Regions from separate parts of the Homo sapiens genome. Here regions 1, 2, 3, 4, 6 and 7 are each linked to region 5. Evidence: fine-mapped expression QTL. A gene starts in region 5. Each other region holds a variant in brackets. All regions are shown on one strand. Distances are from middle to middle.

Region 1 (4,626 bases), 230 kb before region 5:
TCCACCTTCCCAGGTCCTCCAGATCTCTGATAATAAAGATACTTCCCCAAAGGGGAAGAGGAGGGAGAATGCCTCAGTTTCCCCATCGGTCTGGAGAGGGCTAAACTAGATCAGTAGTTCTCCAGCAATGGTGCCCTGGCGTTCCATGTAGCAGGTGGCAGTGGGCGGGGAAGAGGAGAGGCCAGCTGGCCTGATTCCTGGCCTCCTTCCCCGGCCTCTGTTGTACTTTTTAGGTATCTGAGTATTGAGAATTCTCATGAACAAAGCTTCTGCTGCTAGAGAAAATTAAAAAGTTGTAACTCTCTTCTATTCAGCTCTAAAACCTATGCGAGCACCTCTCTAGAAGTATAGCCTGAGTTTGGAAGGAGAGGGACCCCCATTCCCCAAGACCCCTCACCTCTCATCCTTGTCCATGCTGGAAGGCAGCACGCGACTGCCCAGCACCCCAGGCTGGAAGGGGGACTTGGGGCTCTTGGGTTGGGGTGCCCAGCTGGGGGTCTCGCCAGGACTGTCCACCTCTGGCCTCTTGTGCAGCTGAGCCTGGGGAGAAAAGAGAGCTGAGTCTATAAGCTGCCCTTTGTCTGGGGAAGGGCCCCCTCCCATGCAAATGTCAGGTACAATGAGCCTTCTGCAAACACTCGGGGCCCCCTGAATCGGAATAAACCCAGACAGGAAACATGGGGGCTGAGAAAAGTCAGATGTCAGTCTGGCATTCCAAGCAGCCACCCTCGACCCCCAAGATCGAATCACCACCCAAACCCCACATAATCACATTCTCTTTTGCTGAAAAGCCACCATTTGTAGTGTGCTCAGCACACGGCATGCCACCCTGAGAACTCTACATGGAGAGAGCAGCTCCCTCCATCCAACAGCTGCAGCTTAGCTCCGTTCAGTTCCTTACTCCTGGAGCCATGTAAATAAAATGAAGTTTTCGACAGTCTATTAGAGTCCCATAAGAAAACCGGAGGGCAAATATCCACCCATTTTTGGAGGGCATGTTGGGAATGGAATACAATGGTGTGCATAAAGTTCCCTTGCGGGACCTGAGGTGTGAGTGGTGGCAAGTGGCTTCTCTCTCCCAGGCCGTGTTGGGTCAGCCCCCAGCAACAGCAGTCATTACCATTGTCCACTGATAGCTTCTGTGCACTGATCACCCATCACTTTTGCTCTACCAGGCTCAAGAAATATGACAAATGTGAGTTCGTTCCATGTGTGTATGATTCTTTTAGGGCAGATCCTGGCTTTCCCCATTTTACAGGGCGAGAGAGCCCAAAGCTCAAAGGTCTAGCCCGAAGTCACACAGCTTTTATGAACTGGGATTCACACCGGGTCTGCCCGCAGCCCAACTCCAGGGTTCTTTCCAGGACAAGCCCTGCAACCTCCCCTGGTTGTTAATAATCGCCTAGCACTGCTGTGGTAGAGATTGAAGTTTAAGCTAACACTGATGAATGAATGGCCAGAGCCCCGTTTTCACAGAGCACAGTGGACTGGAGCTGTGTTCTGGAATCCCAAGATCTGCCTCAGCAGTTACTCGGTGCATCCACATGGGAGCCCCAGGGCCTCCATCTCACCTACACCCAGGGCCTGTGGCTGTCTGCCTCCTGCGTTAGGCTACCTTATAAGATCATTTGCTTTGTGGCAAGAAAGAAAATGAGGGAAGGAAGGAAGGAAGGATGGGAGGGAGGGAGGGAGGAAGGCCAGATGCGGTGGCTCACGCCTGTAATCCCAGCACTTTGGGAGGCCGAGGCAGGCGGATCAGGAGGTCAGGAGATTGAGACCATCCTTACTAACATGGTGAAACCCCGTTTCTACTAAAAATACAAAAAATTAGCCAGGCATGGTGGCCGGCGCCTGTAGTCCCAGCTACTCGGGAGGCTGAGGCAGGAGAATCGCTTGAACCCGGGAGGCGGAGCTTGCAGTGGATCACACCACTGC[A/C]CTCTAGCCTGGGTGACAGAGAGACTGTCTCAAAAAACAAAAAAAGAAGAAGGAAGGAAGGAAGGAGAGAACAAGGAAGGAAGGAAGGAAGGAGAAAGAGAAAGGAAGGAAGGAAGAGAGGGAGGGAGGGAGGGAGGGAGGGAGGGAGGGAGGGAAAGAAAGTCAGAAAACCTCTAACCTAGTTCTAGTGACTGAAAGATGTTCACACTGTAAGGGCCTGTAAAATCAATTACAGACACAAGCACGCATCCACTACTGACTGATTTTCTATTCGTGGAAGAAATGACAGAAAAGCAAAACTTCCGTCTACTAAAGGAGCAACAGAGTCACGGCGCTCCCACATGGGGATTGTGTGGCCTGCATGGCATACACAGAGTTGAGAAATTCCACCAACAATTCAGGCTTGTCTGCCTTCATTTCTTCTTCAATAAAAGGGGAACGAAGAGCTACCTTTTGCAAGGTTGCTGGAGCATAAAGTGAGTTTGCAAGCACATGATGTCTGAAACAGGGGGGCAAAAGGGCCTCTTTCCTCACCCAAATTAAGTGCCATTTGGTTCCAGGACTATGAGAGACACTTGTGAGAGCTGGACGTGGGGAGGAGGGAGGCAGCTCAGCCTTTCCCTCAGCATTGCATAATACAGTTGGCATTCTGGTGCAATTTGGGAGACTGGGACTTGGTTCCAGCACTGGCTTCCTGTGTCATCTGGTACTGAAATGATCATTTTCTGTGCCTGCCTTCCACAGCAGACCGGATTCCTCAAGGGCTTCAGGAGCCTGGGTTTGTTCACTCCTGCTTCCCTGATGTTCAGCACTGGTGAGCGTCACCAGTTGGATTCTCAGCCCACTTTACAGATAAGCAAACCAAGGCTTAGCTATGACACCAGAGCAGCAGGTTTGGGGGCGGAGGAGAGTCAGAAAGTGGAGATTAAGCAACACAGGGCCACTGGTGAAAGCCAAGTAAGTTGGTAGTATTGTTAATGGTAGAAGCCAATTTCCTAATTTTGCCAATGTGCTATGGTCATGTGAAATACTATCATGTGGGTGAAGCTGAGTGAAGGGTATGGAGAAACTCCCTGAGTTATTTTTGCAACTCCGTTTGAAACTTAAACTATTTCAAAAATGGAAGGAATGAAGGAAGGAGAAGGAAGGAAAAAAAGAAGGATAAAAAAGGATGGACAAAAAAGGAAGGAAGGAAGAAAAGAGAAAGGGAGGGAGGAAAGAAAGAAGAGAAAGGGAGGGAGGAAAGAAAGAAGAGAAAAGGAAGGAGAAAGGGAGGGAGGAAAGAGAAAGAGGTAGGAAGGGAGGGAGGAAGAAGGGACAAAAGGAAGGAGGAAGACAGGGAGGGAGGAAGAAAGGAAGGAAGGACGGAAGGAAGGAATATGTTTGTTTTTTGTTTTTTTTTTGAGATGGAGTCCCGCTCTGTCGCCCAGGCTGGAGTGCCGTGGCGCAATCTCGGCTTACTGCAAGCTCCGCCTCCCAGGTTCAAGCCATTCTCCTGCCTCAGCCTCCCAGGTAGCTGGGACTACAGGCGCCCGCCACCACGCCCGGCTAATTTTTTTCTATTTTTTAGTAGAGACGGGGTTTCACCATGTTATCCAGGATGGTCTCGATCTCCTGATCTCGTGATCCGCCCAACTCGGCCTCCCAAAGTGCTGGGATTACAGGCGTGAGCCACTGCACCCAGCCGGAATCTATTCTTTACACTGCTAAGGTTGAGGATCATGCCCACCAGGTGACTCTTGGTGAGAGGTCTGGTACCTTTAGCACTGCCGGATCCATGCCTGGAAACGCAGGCATCCTCTGAGGATGGCTGACAGGGGTCCTCTCAGCTTTGGATGCCGTCTCCTCCTCATCCGACTCCTCCTTCCTGGGTGATTTCTCCTCTGTTGCAAAGAAAAGGGCACTGAATTCATCAGCAGCTGCCATGTATTGAGGTCCTACATGCCAGATAATTTGCACACAGTATCTCATGCAATGCTCACATCAGACCTGCACAGAAGACGCTATGGCCCATTTTACAGATGAGGACCACCAAGGTGCCTGCTTTCATGCTCTCTCTTCTCACAACTCTGCTTCTTGCCAGAAGATACTGACAACAGGCAGAGTAGGTTTTCTTTTGCGGGAGGACAGAGGCAAACCCATCTCCTGGGCCCTTGGCTCATTCCAAGTCAGGGAATAGAAGGAAATCTTTGGCAGAGGCAGGAAAGTAGATAGGAATGCTTTCAGCCAACAATGCACCGAGGTTATGCTCTCAGAGGAGAATGTGGAGAGCTTCATGTGTCTTGTGGAAAGGCGGCCCAAAGGTGGACCAGGAAGCCATTTTCCTTGACCCCAACTCCCCTATCCAGGACTTAACCCCAGACCCGTGCTTGAGGCTGAGCTGATCACTCAAGCTTTTGGGTGATGGGCTGCCTATCCCACTCTTCCAGGAGTGATATGGGAGGAGTTTCTACTTCTCTGAGACCAGGATGCTGGCATGGGCACAGTGAGGATTGGAGGAGGGGGCGGGGATGAAAGAGGCAAGACCTGGTGCTCTGGAGCCCTTGGGCTACCCGAGGAACTGAGGTACGCTAAGAAAACACAGACCCAGCCTTCCCCATCCAGCCCCTGGCCGGCTCCTCCAGGCTGATGGGAGCCAGAGGTGCTGCTGCCACGTTCCAGCTGGGGGTATTTGTGTGCTTTTGTCCCTAT
Region 2 (4,626 bases), 140 kb before region 5:
CTGTGTCCTCTCAGCCAACAAGGAGGGGTTGCCATGATGATCTATAAGGGCCCTTCAGGTCTCCATCCCGGATTCATTCACTCCACAAAGCCACCCTGGGGGTCTGCATGTACCACCCGCAGCACAACACGCCAGTCCCTCTGGAGGGAGCTCTGGAGGGCTCCAAGCTCTGGGCAAATGACCCACACCTGCATTTAAACTGGGCCTCCCTGCTCCCGTTTAACCACCATTCATCCCAAGTCTCAAGAAGGCAACAGAAAATGCCCTGTTTGGAGCTTTGACAGAAAAACTCCTCTCTCAAGAAGGTCTGAGTTGATGGTTCGCTTTCTTCGAAAACAAGAACGATGCTTTAAGTTGGGAGCAGCCTTCGTGTTTGGATGTGGACACCTATACAGTCCTCAGGGTGGCCCCATATATCTCTCTGTCCTCCCTCCCTTCTTTAACCCAAAGTGAGAAGTCCTGGGAGGCAAGGCGGGGGCTGGCAAAGTGCCTGCAAACCAGCATCACTGTCAGGAGCAGAAGCAGAAGCAGAAGCAGAAGGGAGAGAGAGAGAGAGAGAGAGAGAGAGAGAGAGAGAGAGAGAGAGAGACAGACAGAGAGAGAAAGAGAGAGAGACAGAGAGAGAGAGAGAGAGAGAGAGAGAGAGAGAGAGAGAGAGACAGAGAGAGAGAGAGAGAGAGAGAGAGAGAGTGTGTGTGTGTGTGTGTGTGTGTGTGTGTGTGTGTGTGTGTGTGTGTGTGTGTGTCGGGGGGCAGGGAAGATCCCGGTACCTCTCCATTCTTACTCAAACAACTGATTTTCAGGGTATAATAATAACTGCCTCCCCGCTCCCCACCAAGTGTTCTCATTTCAAAATGGACTTAATGAGATCCCTTGGAGGAAGGACTTCTCCAAGCAATTGAACACACTGTGCAGTAATGAACTGCCAGCAGTGAGTGTCACTTAATGGAAACCAAGTGGACAGAAACAGGTCAGGGGAGGGAGTGGCTGTCCCTTAGGCACCTATTGTGCCTGAGCACAGTGCTAGGCACTCTATAGGGGTTGCCATCCATTATTTTATGGCATTCCACTAACAGCCCTGCAAGGTCTTGTCTCTCCTCTTGAAAGATGAGAAATCTGAGCCTCTGATCTGGTTCCTAGGCTGTGAAGCATAGCTAGGCTGCCTGCTCAAAACTGGCCCCTCCACCAATGCGCTGTGGACTTCAGACAAGTTACTGCACCTCTGAGTTTCAGTCTCCTCATCTGTAAATGGGGATAACAATAGCGATTGCTTTGTAGGGTTTGTGTGAGGGTTGTGTGAGACACTGCCTAGAGATTACCTAGCACACAGTAAGTGCTCAATGAACATAGTCACTTGCCGGCTGGACTTAAACCCAGGAACCTGTCTGCTTCCAAAACTCAGTAAATTCTCTTTCCACTAATCTGCAACTCCCCCATCCATACTCAGCTGGTGACCTTGAGCTCACCCTCCCTGTTCCCTGCATCTGGGAGGCCACCCTGACTCCCTCCAGTGCAGGGGGCCGAGGGGCCACACTCACAGCCCAGGCCAGCCTCTCCTCTTGTGCTCTGATGCCATCTCTTCCCACCAACTCGCAACAGCTCCCCTGCATCTAAAGCTGCTCCCTCCACACTCTTTTCCCTGTTGCAGTAAAATTTGGCACCACTCGCCTGTTATTCGGGCCAGACACTGGGGACCCTCCGTAGTTCCTCTTCTCCCCAGATCTTCCAATCCATTCCCATGGCTTGAATTTGAAACTACAGCCTGAACCCGATCACTTCTCCTTGCTTCCCATCCCACCCCAGCACTGGACCCAAGTCCCCACTGCCACTGGCCTCCCTGCTTTACCTCCTGCCCCTCCAGTCCACTCCCCACACATCAGCCTGGCTGGGCTTGACAGTTCTCCATCCTACGAGGTTAGCCTCCACCAAAAATGCTCCCTCATCTCTCCACTACAGCCAGAATAAACTCTACATATTCTGCCCTGGCCCACAAGGCTCCCACTTGCTTCCCCTACTTGCTCAATGGAAGGCTGGCAATATTGGCCTTACTATGCCTCAACCTGTCTCAGCTTGTTCCCAATGCAGGGCCTTTGCACGTGCTGTTCCCTCTGCCTGCAGCCTCCTTCCCCACATCCCTGCGTGGCTGGCTCCTTCCCTCAGGGCTCCACCCAAATTTTATTCCAGTCACGCTTCCTCCCAGTCTCATCACCTGTTTTATTGTCACATCATTCTGTTTCCTTGTCTTCATGCATTTATCTGTATTTGGAATTATTTATCTTTCATATATATTAGCTGTCTCTCCCACTAGAACACACACTCAGCCAGGGCAGGAATTGTTTTTCGTATTCCCCTCTGATGCTTGGTGACTATAACAGCGTCGGGCACAGAGAAAAGACTCAATAC[G/A]TATTTGTTGAGTGGATAAACAAAGGAGTAAATGAATGACCAAATAAACTAAAGGATGAATAAATGAACACACACACAAGCCAAACTCTATGGGGCTGTACTTGTCCATCTCTACAACAGAGGTGGTAACCCCAACACCCACAAGACGGTGATGAAGATGAACCCTGATGAACCAGAGCCTAGGAGATGCTCAATAAATCCTTGCTGGTTGAAGCATTTCAGTCAGCGGGGGCTCAGCAGCGGGCATCTCCTCTCAACCCCTTACTGAATAAAATGCATTTAATAGTCAAAATCCTGTAACGGAGATACAGCAATTGAAGGCCCAAGGAAGAACGCATGTGAGAACATGATTCACTGTATTACCCGTAGCCATGGCAACTGAAATCTTCAAGCGCAGTTCCGCCTCGCTTTAGTTTTCTATGCAGAAATTTCTAAAGGAAATGTTCAGATTTCTATCTCTGCTGATATAGAATAGGCATTCTCATTTGGCTTGGAGAGGAAAAATGCAAAATACCAGATTCCCATAAGGTAAACTGGTTTACGAAGAAAGAAGAGTTTTGTTTTTGGCAGCGTGAGTTCAATTCTGAGAGGTAGAACAAAATCATCTTCATCATCATCACCATCATCAACAAACAAACAACACCTTTGCTTGAAATAGAATGGACCAGGCCAGGTACGGTGGCTCATGCCTGTAATCCCAGCATTTTGGGAGGCCAAGGTGGGTGGATCACCTGAGGTTAGGAGTTCGAGACCAGCCTGGCCAACATGGTGAAACCCCATCTCTACTAAAAATACAAAAATTAGCCAGACATGGTGGTGGGCGCCTGTAATTCCAGCTACTCGGGAGGCTGAGGCAGGAGAATCGCTTGAACATGGGAGGCAAAGGTTGCAGTGAGCCAAAATCACGCCACTGTACTCCAGCCTGGGTGACAGAGCAAGACTCCATCTCAAAAAAAAATGGACTAGTACTTTATCTAACCTTCACTCATTCACGCAGTCATTTAAGAAGAGTTCACTGATTGCCTACTGTGTTCCAGGCCCTGTGCTAGACTCCAGGGATACAGCAGTGAACCAAGACAGATGAGGATCCCTGCCCTTGTGGAGCCTGCAGTCCAATAGGACAGATGTCCAATGGAAGAACATTCACAGCATGGAATTCCCAATAAGGAATAGTGGAGAGAAACACAGTAGAACAGAAAGACAGCCCTGTGGGATAACAGAGCCACCATCCATTGGTTTTGTGACCTTGGGCAAGTCACTACACATGTCTGAGCCTGTGATAAAATGATGATAACAATATTGCTTGATGAAGGTGCTACGTGTACCCAATGAGATGACAGAAAAAGTGCCTTGTGTGGTGTCTGATATGCAGCAAGCACCCAGTAACTAGTCATTCTTCTTGCCTTACAGAGGCAGAAGGGGCCAGCCCCTGGCTGTTTCTCTCGACAAGGCCTCAGAAAAGTTCTCCGAGTGTGGGGTTTTCCCAAAGGACTGCCTATGTTCTAAAGGACTGAGGGAGTCTGGGAGACATTTGAGATTTCAACTTTCAAAATAAATGTGCAGGAAAGGCCAGGGAAGAGGAAACAGATTAACCTAACAGCTACCCAGATAACAAATGAGGCCAGAGTCCTGAACATGTTTAGGGTGGGGTCCCAGCTAAATTCTCCAAAATATGAGGATGGAGGATGCTGAGAACAGCCTGCCATTGTGGGCTTCTCACCACACCGGCCACGTGCAGGGTGAGACTGGAACTTCAGGGACTGACGAAAGAAATTACGGTCTCTCGACCGGCATAGCAGTAGAGCTAAGGGCTCCAGAGCTCAGCACACTCCAGTGCAAACCCTGAGGCCTGACAGCAAGAAAAGCCTGGTGGGCCAGAGACTTCTTCTAAGGAGCTGCCCGCACTCCCTGGATCCTCACAGATGGAGTGAAACCCTGGCAGAGGTGGGGGCATTTGAGCATCAGGCTGGAGCCCAGGAGCCAGGAGGCAGACAGCAGACCTGGTTTATGTCTGACAGCGCACCACCCTCTTCTCAGCTTCTAGCCTCTGTACCTACACACGCCGTTCTTTATGCCTGAGCATAGCTCCATCACCCCTGCCAGTCCCAGCCCACCTAGAAAACCCCTGTTCAATCTTTAGATGACCCAGAAAGGCCACGGCCAGGCATTTCTCCTGCAGCAAAACACACAAGGGCGCAAAGGTGTCTGCACAACAATGTTCAC
Region 3 (4,626 bases), 200 kb before region 5:
GGAGTGCCTGACAAAGCTCTGAGTGGGGGCTTCCTTGGAGGCTATAAACACAAACAACAGCTGGGCTGGGAGGCCCAGGCTCCTGTCGGCCTCAGAGGCAGGGTTCCCCTAGACCCAAGAAGCCCAGTGGGCACCCTAGAGCCTGCGCTGTGGGTGTCAGAGGTAGGCAGGGAGGCAATAAGAATAGTAACAGCCACAAACACCTAAGAAGCGCCAACTGCATGCCTGGCACCATGTCAAATTCCTTATGTAGACCATCAAGTTTAATTCCCATAATAGATACTGTTAATATCCCCATTTCACAGATAAGTGAGCTGAAGTTCTGACACATTAAATAGTAACAATAGCAGACACTTGGATGGTGCTTACTGCATGCTGGGCCGTGACATTTAGTCCTCCCAACAATCCGAGAAATCAGGTACTGTTACTATCCCCACTTTCTGCATGAGAAGACCGAGGCACAGAGAGGAAGGAGCTCCATTCAAACCCAGGTGGCTGGGCTTCAAGTTAGTGGCCTGCGATTCCCCACTCTACCAACGCCCACTGCAGTTTTACCCAGGAAGTACTCCTTGGTCCAGTGTGTCGGCTGCTGGCAGTATGGCCCGGGGTCTGTTTGGAATGTGTCCCTAAAATGCGGCCCAGGCATCCACTCCCCCAGGAAGCCTCTCCTGGCTGGCCCCATCCCCAGGTGGGTTCTTAGGACCCCCATAGAACCCCCTGTGCTCACCCCATCATAGAAATTATTGGGCTGGGCTGTGATTATCGTTTGACTGTGTTCTCTAAACTGTAAGCTCCCTGAGGTCAGGAACTGGGGTCTGTTCGCCCTCAAATGCCAGTGACAAGTTCAGAGACAGCCACAGTGGACAGGAAGCAAGTGAAGATGGATGGATGGATGGAGTGAATGAACCCATAAATGACTCCCTGTCCCCTCTCTAATGTCAGAATGACACTGCTATTTACCCAGACCCTCTTGATATATCACAGGACCATCTGCTTTTATATATGTCCTTAAAATTTAATTCTTGTTGCTTTTTAAAACAAATTGTTTTTTATAAAACACTATGTGGGCTGGGCATGGTGGCTCACGCCTGTAATCCCAGGACTTTGGGAGGCCGAGGCAGGCGGATCACAAGGTCAGGAGATCAAGACCATCCTGCCTGACACAGTGAAACCCCATCTCTAGTAAAAATACAAAAAATTAGCCGGGCGTGGTGGTGGGTACCTGTAGTCCCAGCTACTCGGGAGGCTGAGGCAGGAGAAAGGCATGAACCTGGGAGGTGGAGGTTGCAGTAAGCTGAGATCGTGCCACTGCACTCCAGCCTGGGCAACAGAGGGAGACTCCATCTGAATAAAAAAAAAAATAAAAAGAACAGGAAAAAAAAAAAACTATGTGCAGTGTGCTGACAGTGAAACTGGGGTGGCCTGTGTGATACATTTAGGTGCAAAATAGGAGAGACTGATCCTGAGGGAGAAGAAAAATGCCCAAAATAATCAGGGGAGAGGGGAGGGGCACAGAACATTCTAGAAGTACTGTGGCACTCTTGCATGGAGATAGACAAATTTGATGTTCTTTTTAACTCAGAATTTCTGTTAATATAAGCTCTACAGTTCTAAGGTTACGATGAGTCAAGGGAAAAGAGAATCTGGAGTTTTAAAAAATGTATTTAACCTAAAGTATAGAACAATTATAATGTAGAACTCTATTTAATTGTTAGAAAGAATAGTTAAAAAGAATGAGGCAGACATAAGTTTACTGACATGGAACGACCTCCAAGATTCACTGTCTAGTGAGTAAAGCAAGGTGCAAAGTAACAGGTGGCAGACCCTGCCATTCGTGAGGGGGAAAAAAGTAAAGACCAAAACGCACAGAATACCTAAGGACACAAGAAAACTGCAATCATACTTGTCTCTAGGAGAGGAATTGCGTGACTAGAGGACGAGGAGAGATGACTTTTTTTTATTCTACCTCTTTTTGTATTTTGTAACATTTGTGGCTAGTGATATAAAAAGTACATTTTGAAAATGTATAATTATATGTAAGTATATAATTCTTTTACGTTTCCCAGCATCTCCTTTTAATGGAATCTGCTCCCACTGATCCCAACTTGGCTCCTCTTGGAGGGATTCTTAAAACAGACTAAGCCCAATTTGACTTCTTTTTTTGAAACATCACATGTCAAAA[CA/A]TCTCTCTCACAGTTTATTTCAGGCTAGGGCTCAACTTGTCAGGTGACAGAACTGCAGCCTTGCAGCGTACGTGTAAACCTGTTGAGGAGGCAGGGCGCTGGGTGTGTCTCCCTATTGACTGAGGACCCCAAATCCTCCAGCCCAAGGCCTGGTCTCTCTCTCCCTGCCAGAACACTGCCACCAACTCAGCTGTGTTCTATGGGAATGATGACATTCCAATGTCACAAAGTGGCTTGACCATCCCTGCTACTGGAAGTCCATCCAGCAGACAGATGCACGCACACACAGATCCACACATACATGTATATACACACAAATGTATATACACAAAACACATACACATAGATGCAGACATACATGAGTATATACACAAACACATATACACAAAACACATACACAAACACATGCAGATGCACACATATATGTATATATACACACATGCAAAGACACAAAAACACATACGGATGTACACATACACATATATACACACAAATACATATAAACACAACACATGCACACACACACAAATGCACACAAACATGTACACAAAACACAAACACATATGCACACATATACACACAAACACATATACACATGAAAATATAAACACACACAAATGCATACACACAAATACACACATATATGCACACAATTACATATACATAAAAAGCACATACAGGCCAGGCACGGTGGCTCATGCCTGTAATCCCAGCACTTTGGGAAGCCGAGGAGGGCGGATCACGAGGTCAGGAGATCAAGACTATCCTGGCTAACACGGTGAAACCCCATCTCTACTAAAAAAATACAAAAATATTAGCCAGGCATGGTGGCGGGTGCCTGTAGTCCCAGCTACTCGGGAGGCTGAGGCAGGAGAATGGCATGAACCTAGGAGGTGAGAGCTTGCAGTGAGCCGAGATCACGCCACTGCACTCCAGCCTGGGTGCCACAGCAAGACTCCATCTCAAAAAAAAAAAAAAAAAAAAAAAAAAAGCACATACACACATACATGCACAAAAAAGATACACACAAATACACACATACATATATATGTGTGTATTTATATATATTTATATAAATATATATACACAAAAAAACTATATACATACACATACACAAATACAAGTACAGGTGCATACATACAAATACACACATATACAGGCAAATGCATAGACACAGAAAAAATATACATAAACACACATATATACAAATACACACAAGCACAGGTACATAAATACAAATACACACATAGGTATATACACATGCAAATGCACATACACAAAAATATACACATAACCACATGTATAAACACACAGATATGCATACACACATACACAATACTTACATATGCACACACAAATGCATATACACAAAAAACACTTTCACACAAACACAAATATACACAAGCACATACACATGCACAAATGTACACACACAAACATCTACACCAATGCACACACATACACAAAAAATAGACAACACAAAAACACATATAAATACATGCACCCAATACACACACACACACAGCTGCATACACACAAATATACACAAATGCATACCTACAAAAACCCCCCCACACACACATACACAAATACATAGAAACAGACACAAATACACATACACACAAAACATATATAATACACACACAAATGCACACACAAATGAATGGTCCCAGCAGCACTGTTTTTGGTAACAGCAAACACACAACCCAACTGCCCTTCCACAAGAGCACCTGATACCTAAACTATAGCTTATCAGTGCAAGGGAATTAACATGGTGTCTCCATTCAAAACAATGACTGCCTCTTCAGAAGGTAGAAATTGAAGGGCTGATGTGGAAAGATGCTAAAATTATTATGAATAGGTTTAAAAAGAGCAAGGGGCAGAAAATGCCATCTCAAATTGAGGTCCGCTGATTAATCAAAGTTTCCTATCCCAAGTATCCAAGGTCCCCTGGGCCTCAGACAGAGTGGGGGAGAGGGCGCAGAAGGCCTGAGTGGCAGGTGACAGAGGGCTCTGAGGAGGGTGTGACAAGACAGGTGGGGATATCAGGGAAGGCAAAGCAGCCAGAAGGAACAGCCTGGGGAAGTTAAGCATCGTATCTATTAAGAGCCTACTATTTTGTGTGCCTGGACAGCCCCCTCTCATCTGCCCTGCAGAGCAGCCTTGCATGGCTGGCCTGGCAGAGCTGGGGCCTATAGGAAGCTCAGCATGAATGGAGTCTCTCTTCCTCTGGAGTTGGGGACCTCGCAGTGGGGCTGAGGGGGTGCCTGGAACCTCAGGCTGTCAACCAGCAAGGAGAGTCCTTTGTTGATGAACACCCCACCCCAGGGAAAGGGGGAAAACCAGTCGGGCTGACATTCCATTGCCTGAGACAGAGCCAAGGGCTCTGTTTCCTTCTGGTGCTCAGCCCAGCCTGTGGCTTTGTTCAAAGACTCTGCCCAGG
Region 4 (4,283 bases), 120 kb before region 5:
AGGATGAGCTTAGGCCAGTACCTGGAATGTACCATGGGCATGCCATGGGCTCTTGCTCTTTCTGACATCCACCCCAGCCCTTTGCACATGCTGTTCCCTCTGCCTGGCACACACTTCCCTGGACCCCTACCCTAGCATCAACTGCCAGCTCCTAGGCATCCTCCAGCACTCAGCTTCCTTGGGGAGGCTCTCCTGGCCCCTGCACCCCAACGAGACCATATCCCTTGAGGCACTGTGCACCACCCCCATCCTAACACATACATGGTCCTTGTTTCAGTTCCTTGAGCAAAGTCCAAATTCTCACCAGACTAAGTTCCATGCGGTCAGGGGACCATGCCGTCTTGCTCCTATATTCCAAGTATCTGGCGCTAGCTCCAAACTACTGCTGGTAAGTGTGTGCTGAATGAACATGAGATCGTAGCCATTTGTCAATGAGTTCAACACCTATGCCAAGCTCTAAGTTCTGGGGACCGTGGACTGTATCTTAGTCATCTCTGCATCTCCAGCATGGAGCCCAGAGCCCAACACGCAGCCAGGCACATCAAGGTTATCCAGACCTTGCAAACCACACAATTCAAAAATACGATTATTGGAGACTTCTTTTCTTCTTTGTGCCTGTCTGAATTTTCCATATCTTTTTACCATGCACATGCATTATTTTTGTAATTAAAACATCAATCAATCAATCAATCAATGTTGCCTTACATTTATTATATAAGAATGTTCATAGGCCAATGATTGAACAATATGGACTGGGGGGATCTCCTGTTTCCCCACTGCTCTGGGGGGCTCAGGAGGGAGGTGAGACACTCTGGGACTGGCGGCTAAAAGGCAATGTTTCCTAAAGTTGTATTTTTAGGAGCGCTGGAAAATTCTCTGGGCAAGAAGGCATCTGAAGTATTTGCAAACACTCAGCAATGGGAAAGATAATATTTCCTAAGACTTTCCCTTTTGGGTGTGCTGAAACCAGTGGCAAATATTCTGGAAAACTCTGAGACCAGCCCATGACAATTCTTCGGTAAGTCCCTCTATTCCCAGAGCCCTGATGGATGTCACACAACCCAGAATCACCTACACCCACTCCTTATTTCACAGAGGAGGAAACAGAAACCCAGAGAGGAGAAGTAACTTGCCCAGGCACAGAAAACAGACCAGTTGCGAAGTCAAAGTGAGACCTGAAAGCATTTTATACCTCACAAAGCACTTCTGCACAGCTTCCCTGACTTTGGCATTTCATCAGAAAATGTTCTGGTTTTTTTCCTCTGTTATCCAGAGGAGACAGCACAGTGTGAGTGTTAGTGGGGAAGGGGTCCCAACTTCTTCTATCACTGTGTAGGTTCAGGAAAAGGAAAGCAAAATCTATTATTTTCATCCCATAGAAGACAGACATTCTTACACACACAGAGGCAAGAGGGATGTAATTTCAGAATAAAGAATAGTCCTTTAAATCAAATAAATGTTGCTTTCTGAAAAACTCACTGAAGTGGTTCTCGTTCTTCCTGTTTTCTTGAGGACTGGAGGAAAGCCCACATCGGATCCAGGATCTTCATTCCTGTTCAGGAGTCTCAGCTCTTCCTACAAACCTGTGCTACCTCCCAAACCAAGCCCGTTTCCTTTTTCCCCAACATTCTCTCTTCCTTGTAACCTCCACCATTTCTTAAAGAAAACAGAGACATTGCTAACCAGACACAGCCAAAAAGCAAAGTTGACAGGAAGCAGGAGGAGAGGGAAAGGACGTGACCCCGTCCTGGAGCCTGCACTGCCCCCCGCCACTCACCCAGAGGTAGCGCAAGAGCTTCAGCAGGCTGGGGCAGTAGTAATACTCCATTTCCAGCACCCAGAGGTTATGTGGTGAGCACAGTACGGTTTCCAGCTTTCCTCTAGCGGGAGCGGCTCTTCTCACTCCTGTCACGCTGGAGTCAAGTTCAAGGCGGCATAAATCATTCAGAAGCCGGCTCACGGCCAGGGGACCAGCCAGTCGGCTCCACTAATGGCCACGGCTGCCTGGGGAACTGAGAAGCCACCACTCGGTCCTATGAGCCCCGCCCGGGGCATCTCTGGCTTCTCGTCCAGTGGGGCGGGTCCAGG[G/C]GTGGATCCTTCTGAACCCAGCTGCCTGGACCCTCACCCTCCCGGGAGCCGTAGGCACGGAGGGTTTTAGGGTTTTCAGTTGTACGGCAAGAAGGCAAGAAGAGAGAAGGTGATGCCCGGGAACTGAATGTGTGCACGCGTGTGTGTGTGTGTTTATGCATGAAGGAGTGTGTGTGTACATGCTTTTACGTGGAGTCAAGTATGTGTGCATGTGTGCATACGAGTGTGTTTTGTGCATGTGTGGACTGACTGTGTGCTGTGCGTGTGAGCCCAAATGTATGTGGTTCCTCCTCCCCAAACCACATGAGGAGAAGGAGGCCCTGCCACTCGTTACAGGGAAGGAAATCAACTCAGGATCCCATTGGTTTACCGGGCTCCTTTGATGTCAGTCATGTTCCTTTTAAACTCAGCTAAGCTTCTGATCCCCCCAGAAGGAGGGTGTGGCCATCCCCATTTTACAGAGAGGAAAACCGAGGCCCAGAGAAGTCAAGGGACTTGGCCAAGGTCACGCGGTGAGTTGGTAGCTAAAGCAAGGCTGGAACCCAGGCCTCCCAGCCATGATTCCTGGGCCCGTCCACTCCTGTGGACACCCAGCCCAGCATGGGGAGTGGGGTGCTGGCAAAGGGAGGGATCAGCTCCCTGAGGCACCAGCTGCCAGCTGCACCAGGTGGGGAGTGAGGAGAATGTCAATTTTCAGAGATTAAAATGCAATAAAAGCACACCTCGGGCAAATCCAAGGCAAACTTTCCCAGATGTTTCCTTCAAAAGAGCATGATTTTAGCAAGTCACCTCATCCTCCTGAGCCTCAGTTACCCCTTCTGTAAAATGCGACAAATTATCCCTGTGTTCAGGGCTTTGAGGATTCAACAAGGTAGAATCCTGCCAAACCATCTAGTTTAGTTTTCATGGTCATATCATGAGGGCAGTATCATCACTTCTACTGTCCAGATGAGGAAACCAAAACTCACAGGGTCAAAAGAGGTTCCTGAGGTGAGCAGCAGCTAAACAGTGAGACAGGGATTCAAATACAAGCCAGACGCTCCTGGATCCCCTACTCAACACCTGCTCCTCATAAGCCGAGGCCATAACCCAGAGACTCCGGCAAGTGAGCGCCGGATGCAAGACAGCTGTGCTTCTGAGGCAAGGTCCTTCTCACTGCTGAGAGGGGAAAACTGAGGCGGGGGAGGTGTTCACAGAGGCACCAGGCAGAGGCCCTGGGTTCTGCACCAGGCTCCCGCCCCCAGGCTGGAGCTTGGCACACTGACTGCCCCAGCAACATCCTGGGCCCATCTGTGCTGCATCCTTCAGCCTCACCACTGGACACCAGGCAGAGCATCTAACAGGAAACTCACTTAAATAAGGAGAGGGTGGGCTGGGCACGGTGGCTCACGCCTGTAATCCCAGAACTTTGGGAGGCCAAGGTGGGCAGATCATGAGGTCAGGAGATCGAGACCATCCTGGCTAACACGGTGAAACCCCGTCTCTACTAAAAATATAAAAAATTAGCCGGCCGCGGAGGCGGGCGCCTGTAGTCCCAGCTACTCGGGAGGCTGAGGCAGGAGAATGGCGTGAACCCGGTAGGCGGAGCTTGCAGTGAGCCGAGATCGTGCCACTGCACTCCAGCCTGGGTGACAGAGTGAGGCTCTGTCTCAAAAAAAAAAACAACAAAAAAACAAAAAACAAGGAGAGGGTGCTGGGTGCAGCAGCTGAGAAAACCACGGGGTAGCTTCAAAGCTCTTCAGAGGCAGGCCTGTGGTTTCATTGATTCTCAGCGCCCCACTCCCAGCAGGCACTGGGTCTCAGCTGCTCGCTGCCTGACAAGTCAGGGGTTGGCCCCAGCGATGGCAGAGCCAGGGACTGGCAGCACAGTCAGAAGGCCGGCCCTGCTCCCTGATGGCACAGTCGGAAGGCTGGCCCTGCTCCCTGACGGCACAGTCGGAAGGCCGGCCCTGCTCCCTAACTGCCAGACAGTACAGCTGAAAAGCCAGCCCTGCTCACCAGCTGACAGTACCAGTCAGAGGACAGCCCCAGCTGACAGCATAGCCAGAGCACTGGGTCCTGCTGACCGACAAAAGTGCAGCAAAAGGGCTGGTTCCTCTGCACTGGCGGCACCGCTGGAGGGATGATGCCAGCTGCCTGGCTGTACCCCTGGCGCTGCGTGTCCTGGCTGACTGGCTGATGAGTGTCAAGTCTGG
Region 5 (4,626 bases):
AAAACTAAACTCTCTGACCCGCATCCCTCCTTATAGCCAAAGGCATCAGCCCCTCCTCCTATGATCATAGTTCTCCCCTTCCAGACAAATGCATATGTTCACAAAGACTTTCAGGGCATAAAGTATCCCCTTAAGGATGTGGCTGCTAGCCTCATCTTTGACACAGTGTCTTGAAATATTTGTTGAAGGAACAAATGATAAATAAATGAATGAATGCACATATAAAATATCCCTGTGAGGCTCTGTTTCTGAGTTGGTCAGAGATGTAGCCTGGTGAGGAGAAATGCTCAGAGCCAGACAACTGGCTCCTTCATTCTCCTGCCAAGGTCAGCCTTCAATAAAAAACAGCCCCGGCCAGGCGCAGTGGCTCATGCCTGTAATCCTAGCACTTTGGGAGGCGGAGGCAGGAGGATCACCTAAGGTTAGGAGTTTGGGATCAGCCTGGCCAACATGGTGAAACCCTATCTCTACTAAAAATACAAAAATTAGCCGGGCAGAGTGGCGGGCATCTGTAATCCCAGCCACTCTGGAGGCTGAGGCCGGAGAATTGCTTGAACCCGGGAGGCAGAGGTCGCAGTGAGCCGAGATCGCGCCATTGCACTCTAGCCTGGGCTGCAGAGCGAGACTCCATCTCAAAAAACAAAATAAAACAAAACAAAACAAAACAAACGAAAAAAAGCAGCCCCTAGGACCTCCAGTGGGGGTAGGGGCAGCTTCCAGCCTCTGAACCTAGGGTGAGAACTGTATCCCCAACATCAAGAATCAGTACTAGACTGCAGGGCAAGCCGACTGCTCCATAGCTGGAAAGTAACTCCAAGAGGACAAATCCTGAGTTGCCCTAGGCCACACCATTTCTACAGTGCTCCTGACATAGGTGCTCAATACACGCTGGTTGATGGAGCCAGCCAGTTCATGTGCCCAGCTGAAATGTATGTCCAGACACTGCATTGAAACTCTGCACTTCTCTTGGGTAATTGCACCCTTGTCAAGCATGCAAATCCTTTAAAAAGGATCCCCCTGCCAGAACCACCAAGATCTGGGCTTGTGTCTGTACAAATTCCTCGGGAACTGTCCCTGGCTGCAACAGGAAGGAAGGAGGCGCCAGAGTCTGGGGGTGCACACGTTTGTCCAGGAACCTTGATGGATTAGCAGAGGGAAAGCCAGACCAAGGGAGAAGCTTTGTCCAAATGTCTTGGTTACTCATTAGCCAAACCTCAGAGCTTCTCTCTGCAAGGGGGGATCAGAGGGGCAATTAACCCATTTGGAAGAAAGGTTAAGCTAAATAGCTCTCTAATCCTGCGGTTTCAAAAGATAGCAAGTAGGGTTTCTGGAATCTTTAGATACTGTAAGGCAAGCACAGGGGATGGGGCACGGGAAAGGAGAGGCCATAGACTGAGGGAGGCACTGATACTTATAGAGCCCCTACCTGTTTCATACCCTTCATTCCGATCCATCCTAGGCCAAGCCCATTTTGCCCAGAGGGTCCCCATCTGGATTCAGATAGGTTAAGTGTTTTGCCCAAGGTCACAAAAAAGGTGCAAAGAAAGTGTTTTTCTTTGTGCAACAGGTACAGTCCTTTCCCTTCCAAAAGATAATGGCTGCTCCTGGCTAGAGAAAGTTCAGTCCCGGCAGGCAGGAAGCCCTAGCCACCTAGGCGTCGCGCGGTGGAGGTCACACGCCTGCTCCGGGACTGGACAAACAGCAGGGTTTTAAGGCGCGGCGTCCCCACTCCCAGGCGAGTTTGTGCCAGCAGGGTGTGAAAAGGTCAGGCTCGGGTGGGGGTCAACGAGCCGCTTCCCATCCCGAGGGCCCCACCCGTGAGCCCGGGTGGGCCGCGCCGCCATCGGGGCGGGGACCACGCGGGCCTGCCTGGTAACAGGGGGACTGAGGCTTAATCCCATCAGGGCGCCTCCGCCCTGGGAAGACGAGCGGAGGGGGGGCGCAGGCCAGGCCGAGAGGACGTGTCCGGAGCCTCCGCGTCCGAGGGGCCCCGCGCGCCGCCCCTCTCACGCCCCCCGAACCACCGCGCTGTCCTCCGGGCTCCCCTCGACCAGGGTTCCGTCTCGCTCGCCGCCCTTGCTTCCCACTTCCACCTCCGGGGCCTCCAACCCGCACAAATGTCCAGACCCTAGCAGCTCCAGGCTGAGTAACCCAGATCTCCAGCGATCCCTCAGCTCCTAGCCACGGGATCTCTCTGAATCCATTCCCAAGGCTCAGGCTGGCATGGGAGGAGATTGATCCTCTCGCTCCCAGTCTCGAATCACCCTTCGCCGTCACCCCTGACTGGGGATCCAGTGGGACCCCAGGCCTCCAGCGCCCGATCCCCTCCAGGGATCGACTCCCAAGTCGCCAACCAGGTGGCACGTGATCCATTGGTTGCCCTGTGCGGGATCTTCCCGCGGGATCCACTCTCAAGTCTCGGGAGACGGATTCCCCGGCTCCCAAACCGGGATCCTCCCTCCCTGCAGACCCGGAGTCTGGGGAAATCCTCCGGCTCCCCGCCTCTTCCCCGGCCAACTTTGCCAACTTTTCTCCCGGGGCCTCGGCCGGGCAGAAACTTGGCGGCCCTCGCCAGCCGCCGTCACCCCCAGCTACCTCGTCGGCCGGGGACAGGAGGCGGCCAGCCGGCCCCCACTGCCCGCAGCCGCTGCGCAACCTACCGTGGAGCCACCGCCAGCCCGCGCCGCGCCGCCACCTGCCCGCAGCCCGCGGCACCTGCCCTGGGAGCCCGCAGCCCCGCGCAGCCTAGCCTGCTGGGGGCGGGGCCTCGAGCGGGGACGCGCCCCCGTCACCATGGGAACTGCCGCCGGCCGCGCCTGCGCGGAGGGGAGCAGAGCAGGCAGGACCCGAGTCCGCAGTGGCGCCTGGGCCTGGGACCTCTCCGGCGGGTCAGAGGTCACGACTCGCTTGGACACCCCTGCCGGAAGCGCTCCCGCCCCTCGAGGCCCGACCCCGCTCTGTCCAATTGGGAACTTTGCTCCGGGTACCCTCCCGCGTTCCCTGGATGTTCCCCAGTCACCAGCCAGGATCCCCCGCCACCGGCACCGACCCGCTGCCCAGCCGGCGACCCCGAGAGCCTAATGCAACCCAGGATTTCAGGAGGCGCTCCATAAATGTGGGCCCACTGACTTGCCTGGGCTGCTGGTGCCGGCCCGGGGGCGGGCAAGGTCTGTGCGCGGTGCTGGCGCCTCCTCGCGCCAAGCAAGGGCACTGCACCTGAGAGTTCGCTGGAGCGCCTACTGTGTGCGCATCCTCCTGCCATTATGTTGTGGGTGTGAGTTGTGGGGTAATGGGTACAGGAACTTGTGGACAAGTTGAGAGAATCGTAGGAAGTCGCCTCTGAAAGAGAAAATACCTGTTCTGTTATCCGTTACTCATTTCATTCAGCAGATCTTTATTAAGCACCTATTGCATGCTGGGTGCTGGAGAACCCAGTGGTGGGCAGCTGGCAAAATCCAGGCTGTTGTGCAGCTTACAGATATTCAAACAAATAATTTCACGAGTATATCAAATTGAATCTGTGACATGTGCTCCTATGGGAAATGTACAGAGCATGAATAACTGGAGGACCTAAAATCAATGTGCCTTTATTATAAGCAAGATAGACCTCAATAAAAAAAGAGAAAGAAAAGGACATCACAGGCTGCGCACGGTGGCTTGTAATCCCAGCATTTTGGGAGGCCGAGGCGGGTGGATCACCTGAGGTCATGAGTTTGAGACCAGCCTGGCCAACGTGGTGAAACCTCGTCACTACTAAAAATTACAAAAATTAGCTGGGCGTGGTGGCGGATGCCTGTGATCCCAGCTACTCGGGAGGCTAAGGCAGGAGAATGGCTTGAACCCGGGAGGTGGAGATTGCAGTGAGCCAAGAGCGCGCCACTGCACTCCAGCCTGGACGACAGAGCAAGACTCCATCTCAAAAAAAAAAAAAAGAAAAAGACATCACATTGTGTGGCTTCAGGAGGATTGGTGGGGAGACTTCTTGCCTCATTTTGCTCTTAAATTGTTGGGTGTGTGTAAGAAACAAGGGTAGCTCCTGTTCTCCACACCGTTTGCACTGCAACCCTTTTGAAGGTCTGATCATCACCATCAGACCCAGGCAGGGTAAACCCTGTTTACCAAACAGCAGCCCGAGAACCCCCAACTGACTTGTGTACAGTGCTGGAACCCAGGAATTGGGGGGCAGAGGTCCCATGAGGTCTCATGTCTCAAGACATTCTCCTTATCATCTGGGTATCTTGAGTACAGTCATCAAAAGGATCAAACCCAGTTGCTTTTACAGACAACTACCACTTCCAGAGAGAAGTCTGTGAGTAGGAGACCAGGAACGGCTGGGTTGAAACTTAAAATCCTTCAAAATCCACGTAAGTCAGGCCTTTACATGACGTGTATGTTATACCAGCAAAGGAAAATCGTTGATTGTCTGCTCTTCTCTCTAGACCTCCTGGAGGAAGGGACTTCTGTCTGTCTTTCACCTCCGATTCCCAGTGCCTAGAACAGGGCTTGGCACACAATAGGTGCTCAAAGAATGTATGCTGAGTGCATGAATGACCAACAGCTGATGACATGCCATCTGCTGCCCCTCCTCCCTAACCTTATGGGAACTTCCTGTCTCTCCTGGGCAAA
Region 6 (4,626 bases), 100 kb before region 5:
GGAGTTCGAGACCAACCTGGGCAATATGGCAAAACCCCGTCTCTACCAAAAATACAAAAAAAAAAAAAAAAATTAGCTGGGCATGGTGGCACATGCCTGTAGTCCCAGGTACTTGGGAAGCTGAGGTGGGAGGATGGTTTGAACTCACGAGGTGTTGCAGTGAGCCGAGATCATGCCACCGGCACTATAGCCTGGGCAACAGAGCCAGATCCTGTCTGTCTGTTTGCCTGTCTCTCTCTCTATATCTGTATCTGTATCTATATCTATCTATATCTATATCTATATCTATATCTATCTATATCTATCTATATATATGTTTGTGTGTATGTATTCCTACAACTCAACAACAAAGAAAAAACAATCTGATTCAAAAATGGGCAAAGGACTTGAACGGACATTTCTGCCAAAAAGATATACAACTGGTCATTTGGCATATGAACAGATACTCAAAATCATTAGTCATTAGGGAAATGAAAATAAATATCTCAATGAGCTACCATGGCTAATTTTTAAATTTTTATTTATTCATTGTTTTAGAGACAGGGGTCTCACTATGTTCAGCCCAGGCTGGTCTGGAACTCCTGGCCTCAAGCAATCCTCCTATCTTGGCTTCCTGAGTCACTGGATGACAGGCATGAGCCACGGCGCCCAGCCCACAACTTGTTTTTTCAGTCACAACCTTTGATGAGTTACTTTCAGCAGTCCTTGTGTGGTCTTTCATTTTGATTGTTTCCTTCTCATTTGGACTCGCTGTCAACCAACTGAAATCTAGAGGGAATCTCTAACTAGCAGCCAGGATATGTTCTTGGGCGGGGGCCACCTCACAAGTTCCCACTTATTTCAAGTTGATTACACTCACAAGGACTACCACTGCTGTCAGCAGAATCCAAATGTTCCTCCCCTCCTTTTTCCAGTCTTAATAACAAAGTCATCAGGTCCAAATGCTCTCAAACCTCTCAACCTTTGCCCTGGCAGATCCTGCGTACAAAGATGCTGGCATGACGATGACACAGCACCAGCCTCAGAAGCAAAGGGCCACAGTTTCACCAGTTAGAGATGTGGGAAAGTCTGAGCTCAGTGTAAAACCAAACACTGCGGGTGTCCAGGAGGGTCACGTGGAAGTCAAGTTTAAAGGACCCCAGATGACATCCGTTGTATAGAGCACAATTTCACGCCTCTAAACCTCTGCCCATGCTGTTCCCTCGATCAGGGGCAAACCACTGTTCCCCAGACCATAGTTACCTGGCAAACACCTGCTCAGCCTTCAAGACTTAGAACTCAGACTCTTTGGTCTCGAACTCCTGCTTCTCAGCTAGCCCTCCCCAAGTGGAGACACCCCCTCCCTCCTCCAGGGAGACTTTACACAAATTCAAATTAAATTAAAGCACATGACATGATGCCTGGCATATAGTAAATGTTCAATAAACAGTAGCTATTAGGGAGCTTCCGGATACCTGAACACAGGGAGGTTCCTGGAGGGTGGCGTGCCCAGGGAGGGCATGGAAGCTCTGCACTCCCTCCCCCATACCTCACCCTACGCATCTCTGCTTCTACAGCTTATCTTTTGTAATAAACTGGCAAACGAAGAGGAAGAGAGACCAGAGACATCTACCTATCACCCACCTCCCACCCTGCATACACAGAAGAGGCTACGCAAAGACAAATGAAGGACACAGCTGTCAGCCACGGAGAGGAGCCTCATTAGAAGCCAGCCTTGCTAGCTCCTTCATCTTGGACTTCTAGCCTGTGTATCTGTGAGAAAGCAAATTTCTGTTGTTTAAGAAAAAAAAAGAAAATTAGCTATTAGAACCCACTGCAATTATTTACCTACCTTCTTTTTTTTTGAGATGGAGTCTCACTCTGTTACCCACGCTGGAGTGCAGTGGCGAAAACTCAGCTCACTAAAACCTCCGCCTCCCGAGTTCAAGCGATTTTCCTGCCTCAGCCTCCTGAGTAGCTGGGATCAAGTGATTCTCCTGCCCCTCAGCTTCCTGAGTAGCTGAGATTACAGGCACGCAACACCACGCCAGTCTAATTCTTCTTTTTTTTTTTTTTTTTTTTGTATTTTAGTAGAAACAGGGTTTCACCATGTTGCCCAGGCTGGTCTCGAACTCCTGAGCTCAGGCGAATCGCCTGCCTAGGCCTCCCCAACTGCTGGAATTATAGGCGTGAGCCACTGTGCCTGGCCTATTTACCTACCTTCTTAATTGTCTATGCCTTAGTCATAACTGTAGCCCACTGCCCAGCATAGCACTTACCACATGCAGATAAATATTTGTCAAAAAAAGGAGCAAAAT[C/T]CCTAAACACTCTACCTCAGCCCAACTGGTCCTCCAAGCACCCCCCTTTGTCTGTGTGAGTTCTCAGTCCCAAATGTCTCCCCTCCTACTTCCTGCACCTAACTGGACCCTCCCAGGTCATTTTCAGACCCCTGGGCTGTGAACTCCAGGAGGCTGACGGAGAAAATCTCCAGGCCCCATCATGCAGGGCCTGGCGCATAGTAGGCCCAAAAAGAAATAAACTCAAGAACCAAATGAGCCAGCATATGCTAACCAATAGGTTTCAGGGATTGGGAGAAAATTCTAGAGACTACCAGAGGCCCTCCCGCTGGCCCATTGCAAGGAAGCCTCCCAGCTGATGAATCTCTGACTTCATCGTCACAAGATGGGCCTCCAGGGTAAACTGTGACTCGAGGTCACAGTCCACAACTGAGTCACTGTGTTTTATGGTCCCTGTGAAAATGCAGACCAAAGCTCACTTCCTGGGGAAAAGAGGAGAGGGAGGAAGCCTGATACAGGACTTGGATTCGCCATGTGGACTCGAGGTCCTGAGGGGAACCCTGAAAGTAACAAGGGAGATGGGGAGAAACAGAGAGCACTGGCCAAGGAGTCACAAAGAAGAACTCCAGCCCCAGCTCTGCCTCTAGAGGCCACAGGACCATACACAAGACACTTCCCTACACTGGGCCTGTCTCCTCAACTGCAGAAAAACTTCTAAGGCTATGGATGTTTGTCTTTCCCATCAGCTCTTTGGGAGAGCATAGAAAAAAAACCTGGCCGCAAATAATAATAAAATAATAATAAGCCGGGTGCAGTGGCTCACACCTGTCATCTCAGCACTTTGGGAAACCAAGGCTGGCGGAAAACTTGAGGTCAGGTGTTTGAGACCAGCCTGGCCAACATGGCAAAACCTATCTCTACTGAAAATACAAAAATCAGCCTGGTGTGGTGGTGCACGCCTGTAGTCCCAGCTACTCAGCAGGCTGAGGCACGAGAATCACTTGAACCCGGGAGGCAGAGGCTGCAGTGAATCGAGATTATGCCACTGCACTCCAGCCTGGGCGGCAGAGTGAGACTCCATCTCAAATAATAATAATAATAATAGCTGCTATGATTTGTGAAGCCATTTCTCGGTGTCAGGCACTGTGCTAAGAGCTTTGTAAGCATCATCTCATTTGGGCTCTGTCCTCCCACCGGGCTACCACGTAAGACGAGTGGAAAGTTCAGCAGACACTTAAGAGCATGGACTGCAGACCCAGAACTTGGAAGAGACACTTAATGGCTCTGAGCCTCAGTTTGCCCATCTGTGAAGTGGAAATAATAGCAGTATCTACATGACATGTAACGATAGTAAGTGTTAGGCTTTGTTATTGCTATCACTATCCACTTTATAGAGGAGGAAAAGTGAGGCCCTGAGTGGTAAACTCACTTGCTCAAGGCCTCTAGCAAGTGGCAGGGTCTGTAGTTCAGCAACCATGGGCAGGGCTATGCAAATCAGCAGGGCATTGGCCTGGCAGGTCCCAGGCACCCTCTGCAAGACAGCAGCAGCACAGCAGCTGATGGCCAACCCCGGGCTGAGCAAATATCACATTCTCAGCTCCAGGAGGAGTCCCAGGGCTCAGGGTGTCTTGTTTCCTCATGTAGCTAATGCACGGAGTGCTGCAGGCCCAGGAGAGAGAGGAGCTGGCAGGGGCTGGCAGGGGTTGGCCATAGGCCAAAAGCACAGGCCCATGGCGGGAAGGGCCTGGGGCCAAGGCTGGAGTGAGATAGGCCCCGTTTCCATTCCAGCTCCCCCAGCAGCTGTGTGGCCTTGGGCAAGGGGCTGAAGCATTCTGAGCCTCACTTTCCTGCTCTGCAAAATAGGATTCATGGTCACTAACATGAGGCTGAAGTAGGAATTGGCAAGGCCTGAGAGGCTCAAAAAATGAAGATGAACATGAACTTAAATGGGAAAATAACAGCACAAAGTCATTCATCAAAGCAGTGATGGGAATCATAGCAGACACAGTGAATCCCTTCAAACACCTCATGAGACACAAAATGCATGTATGACCAATTTCCAGAGGAGCAGGGACAGCCACCAGGGGCTCAGGACCCCAGCCCTCCTCTGCTGGGTCACCCTGGTTAAGTCAGGTCCTCTCTCCTGGCTTCACTTTCCCCTTTTATAAAAAGAGAATTGGACAGGTGAGAAAAAAAGCAGAGGAGAGGAAGGGGAGGAGGAGGATGAGAAAGGGAAGGGAAAGTAGAAGAGATGGAAAGGATCAGGAAAGGAGGAAGGGAAGAGGGAGAAAGAAGCAAAAGCTACCACTGCAGTTGAGACATTGAGAATTTACTATGTGCTGGGTGATCT
Region 7 (4,329 bases), 120 kb before region 5:
CTGCAAGGCCCGGCATGGTCACCTCCCTGCTCTCACTGCCCACTCTCTCCTCTCACCCAGTCTGCTGCAGCCACCGTGGCATCCCTCCTGTTCTGCAAATGTGCCTGTGCATGCTTGGGCCTTAAAGCCTTTGCACTGACTATTCCTGTTTCCCCCCAAGCTCCCCTGGCCTATGCTCTCCCTGCTTCTAAAGTCTCTGTTCAAATGTCACCTTTTTAGAGAGGCAGAGGCCCCACACACCCAAGCCCTCCAGAACCTTCTTACCTGGTTCCTTCTGTCTTTCCCCAGCACAGCCCACCTCCTGACATACTATACAACGTTCTTACACATACCCATTGTTGATTGCCTGAACACCCCACTAGAATGTTAATTCTGGCCGGGCCCCTATAATCACAGGTCCTCAGGAGGCGGAGGCAGGGGAATCATTTGAACCCAGGAGGCGGAGGTTGCAGTGAGCCGAGATGGTGCCATTGCACTCCAGCCTGGGCGACAGAGCGAGACTCCATCTCAAAAAAAAAAAAAAGTTAGTCCCTGGGGCAGGAAACATGGCTGTCTTGTGCACTGATGTATCCCAAACCTTTAGAACAGGGCCTGGTGCATGCAACTGAACTGAACTGAGGACACATCAGGTGCCTAGCACCAGCATCGGCTGCCACCACTTATTCAGCACCTACTGTATGCCTGGCTTTGTTTGCATCGCCTCACTGAGTCCTCAGGCCAACCCACGAGGAAGTTGCTATCAATATTTCTACTCTATAGATGGCAAAACTGAGTTTCTGGGAGGGCTAAGAGATTTGCTCGAGGCCCCATGCTCTATTAATAAGTGGCCCAGTAGGGAATAGAAGCCAGGAGAGACTGACTCCAAGCCCGTTTTTGCCTCCATGACTGGGTCTAAAAAGGCGCCCACAGCTCAAGTCAGATGAAAATCTCTCATGATGCAAACTGTTCCATGGCCCAAACCTCAGGCCCAACTCAAACAGCACAAAAATAGTCAGTTCTTCTATTTCAGCCACAGACATTGCTGAGACAAAGCCAAACCAGACCCTTGGCACAAACTGAAGCCACTATGATCTGAGATTCAGAAGCTGGTAACAGTAATTGCTTACGGTGTGCGTATGGAGTGCCAGGCACTACGATAAGGCCATTTGTCCCCACAATAGCTTTCAACATGTCAGGTCAACAGGGTGGTCCATCAGCCCACATCTATTTTTATTTTTTACTTCTTTTTGAGACAGGGTCTTGCTCTGTCTCCCAGGCTGGGAAGCAGTGGTACAATCCTAGCTTACTGCAGCCTCGAACTCTTGGGCTCAGGTGATCCTTCTGCCTCAGCCTGCTGAGTATTTGAGATTATAGGCGTACACCATTATACTTGGCTATTCAAAAAAAAATTCTTTTGTAGAGACTGAGTATTGCTGTGTTACCCAAGCTGGTCTCAAATTCCTGGGCTCAAGCAATCCTCCCGCTTTGATCTCACAGAGTCTTGGGATTACAGGCGTGAACCACTGCACCTGGCCAGCCCACATCTATTAAGCACCTATTATGTGCCAGGCACTGGGCCAAGGGCTGAGAGTTCAGTGGTAAACACACAAGCAACCTCCCTGCCTGACAGAGACTGCATGTAGTCATCAAATTAGCTTTGGAGTCAGATTTCCAAGTTCAAATCCCAGCTCTGCCCCTGGCCAGCTGTTGCATATCTGGTGGTTACTCAGCCTCTCAGAATCTCAGTTTTCTCTTCGGTAAAATAATAATAAAATCCACCCCTCAGGGCTATTTGTGAGGATTAATCAAGATCCCACACACTGAGGCACTTAGCGTCAAAGAGGATAATATCTTTTGCTGTTTCATGACTATTATTATTACTACTGTCACCTAGAGGTGATTACACGCTGAGTGAGGGCCACAGCCAAATGAACAAGTAGCAAGAGGGTCTGGGGAGAAAACAGTGGAACTAACCACATTTAGATTTTTTCCATTCAAAAATCTGGTCACAGAGTCAAACGTGGGGACATGAAGCTTAGAAACACAATGAAAACCACAGTGATTTCCCATCTCCAGGGAGAC[C/T]AAGGCATGGAACACGGACCCTGCAGGAGGATCTTAAAAGGGCAGGTGAGGGATCTGCACCTTCCCCAAGAAGCTATCAGAAGCCCCAGCTGGGGTGTCACGCCCCACGGGCCACTCAGCAGTTCCTCACTACACTGAAAGCAGCCACCTCTGCCATGGGAGGCTGGAGTAGAGGAAGCCTGCGAGAGTCAGCCTCACAGACCCTGGGCGGGGCTGGAGAGGCAGCTGGGAAGAGCATGGGACAGGAGGTGGGGGTCCCTGCCATTATATCAGAGCCCTCCCCAGCTCCCAACAAACACCATCTCCATATTAAATGCCCACTCTAAGTCCAGCCCTGTGCCAAGGACACTAATGCCCCTTATTCTTAGCTAATCCTCAGCACAGTTCCTCCAAGGTGGGGCTGACCACTGCCACTTATAGAGAGGGAAACTGATGCCCACAGCCATGATGTGATTTACCAAAAGCCACACACCCAGTAGAGACAGGGCCAGGATTCTAGGCCAGGGTTCTCCCTCCAGAGCCCCGCCTCGCCTAGTGCCACATTCTTCTGTCATCCTCCTCGTTGCAAAGCTTGATATGCATAGAAAGCTTTCCTGTAGGCTGGGAAGTTGCTTCAACACCATGGGCCTCAGTTTCCCCATCTGAGAAACCAGAAGATCAGACTCCACGAAGTAGTAAAAATAATAGAGGGAGAGCTGGGTTCAAATACAGGCTCTAGCACTTCCTAGCCGGGGACCTTGGAGGAGATACCTAGCCTTTCAAGGCCTCAGTTTCCCTAATTGCAAAATGCAGGTAATAATGAGATCAACCCATTGGGGTTCTTATAAGGATATAATGAGACCCCTCTGAAAGGCGTTTAGTACAGGCTCAGGATTTTGTGAGCACTCAGTAGGAGTGGTGGTGGTGATGGTGACTTTTATCATCATATGACTATTGCTTATATCACTAATTACTACTGCTGTAATTGATAACCCCAAGAGAGCAGCTTGATGCCCCTAGCAAGGCCACAGGCCTTGGGACCGTCTGGCGAGGTTATCTCAGCAACAAAGGAGATTAAATAACTCACAACAGCCACACCAGAGGCTGTAGCCCTCAGCTATTCTTACTAATAGTTTGAAAGAGAAACTTAATCTCTCTCCCCATGCCCCAACTGTTGCTGGACCAGCACCAAGCTTGATGGTGATAGTGGTTTCTCCCCCCAGAAGAGAAGTGCAGCTATGAGAAGGACTCAGGCTGCCAACAGGAAGCTAAAAACATCCCACCACCAAGTGACAACTTTGCAGAAAACCTGTTGCAGCCCACGCTTGGCCCCACTTCTAAGAAGCTGACACAGGAGACAGCTCGAAATGTGAATCAAGATTTAAGGCGGGGAACAATTATGCATACAATAAACACCTGGGAATAACCTAAGTTTCCAACCACAAAGAATTGGCTACTAGATTCACCAATCCCTCTTCTGGGTATATATCCAAAGTAAATGAAACCAGTACCCCATAAACCAAGGCTGACAACAGGTAGGAATATTAAGCAGCTATTAAATATCATGGTTACAAACTTTTTAAATAACATGGCAGATTTTTTTATGCTGCCAGTGGACACACAAAAAGATAAGGACTGACAGGCTGGGTGCAGTGGCTCACGCCTGTAATCCCAGCATTTTGGGAGGCCAAGGCGGGTGGATCACCTGAGGTCAGGAGTTCGAGACGAGCCTGGCTAACACAGTGAAACCCCATCTCTACTAAAAATACAAAAATTAGCCGGGCATGGTGGCAGGCGCCTGTAATCCCAGCTACTCGGGAGGCTGAGGCAGGAGAATCGCTTGAACCCGGGAGGAGGAGGTTGCAGTGAGTCGAGATCGCGCCACTGCACTCCAGCCTGGGAACAAGAGTGAGACTTTGTCTCAAAAAAAAAAAAAAAGATGCGCACTGATGACTGGGTGCAGTGCTCACGCCTGTAATCCTGGCACTTTGGGAGATAGAGACCATCCTGGCTAACACGGTGAAACCCCATCTCTACTAAAAATAAAAATACAAAAAATTAGCTGGGTGTGGTAGCACGTGCCTGTAGTCCCAGCTACTTGGGAGGCTGAGGCAGGAGAATCGCTTGAACCCAGGAGGCAGAGGTTGCAGTGAGCCGAGATCACGCCACTGCACTCCAGCCTGGGTGACAGAGACTCCATCTCAAAAAAAAAAAGATGCGCACTGATTCACTCATTCAGCTGGCAGTGATGAGGCCCTACTAGGGATGAAACTAAAAGCGAAAAAATAC

Direction of the effects. Positions count from the first base shown, and alleles are read on the strand shown. Sizes are in standard deviations (SD) of each study's normalised expression. Not every link is listed here.
For the expression in esophagus muscle of the gene that starts at base 2,717 in region 5, CA is the high allele of the variant in region 3 and A is the other (moderate effect, 0.55 SD a copy in GTEx).

The links.
Region 1: its variant is fine-mapped to the expression of KIAA1671 in whole blood (INTERVAL, PIP above 0.99).
Region 2: its variant is fine-mapped to the expression of KIAA1671 in whole blood (INTERVAL, PIP above 0.99).
Region 3: its variant is fine-mapped to the expression of KIAA1671 in esophagus muscle (GTEx, PIP above 0.99). The same link has a PIP of 0.9 or more in gastroesophageal junction.
Region 4: its variant is fine-mapped to the expression of KIAA1671 in blood mononuclear cells (TOPMed, PIP above 0.99). The same link has a PIP of 0.9 or more in whole blood.
Region 6: its variant is fine-mapped to the expression of KIAA1671 in thyroid (GTEx, PIP above 0.99).
Region 7: its variant is fine-mapped to the expression of KIAA1671 in whole blood (TOPMed, PIP 0.99).

Annotation. Positions count from the first base shown.
Region 1 is chr22:25,180,891-25,185,516 of GRCh38, reverse strand. KIAA1671 reads right to left here. Exons shown (of 13, transcript NM_001145206.2): 10 at 3,694-3,818; 11 at 398-540. Among named protein-coding and RNA genes, the nearest start is that of CRYBB3, 17 kb to the left of the region's middle. The variant A/C (reference allele first, on the strand shown) is at 1,936.
Region 2 is chr22:25,089,802-25,094,427 of GRCh38, reverse strand. All of the region lies in intron 6 of KIAA1671, which reads right to left. Among named protein-coding and RNA genes, the nearest start is that of KIAA1671-AS1, 21 kb to the left of the region's middle. The variant G/A (reference allele first, on the strand shown) is at 2,404.
Region 3 is chr22:25,154,561-25,159,186 of GRCh38, reverse strand. All of the region lies in intron 6 of KIAA1671, which reads right to left. Among named protein-coding and RNA genes, the nearest start is that of CRYBB3, 43 kb to the left of the region's middle. The variant CA/A (reference allele first, on the strand shown) is at 2,183.
Region 4 is chr22:25,067,911-25,072,193 of GRCh38, reverse strand. The region is part of intron 6 of KIAA1671; the gene reads right to left. Among named protein-coding and RNA genes, the nearest start is that of KIAA1671-AS1, 43 kb to the left of the region's middle. RefSeq lists an enhancer at 2,021-2,571. The variant G/C (reference allele first, on the strand shown) is at 2,089.
Region 5 is chr22:24,950,807-24,955,432 of GRCh38, reverse strand. It overlaps KIAA1671, which reads right to left and starts at 2,717. Exons shown (of 13, transcript NM_001145206.2): 1 at 2,661-2,717. RefSeq lists a silencer at 2,651-2,900.
Region 6 is chr22:25,051,469-25,056,094 of GRCh38, reverse strand. All of the region lies in intron 6 of KIAA1671, which reads right to left. Among named protein-coding and RNA genes, the nearest start is that of KIAA1671-AS1, 59 kb to the left of the region's middle. The variant C/T (reference allele first, on the strand shown) is at 2,298.
Region 7 is chr22:25,075,428-25,079,756 of GRCh38, reverse strand. The region is part of intron 6 of KIAA1671; the gene reads right to left. Among named protein-coding and RNA genes, the nearest start is that of KIAA1671-AS1, 35 kb to the left of the region's middle. The variant C/T (reference allele first, on the strand shown) is at 2,062.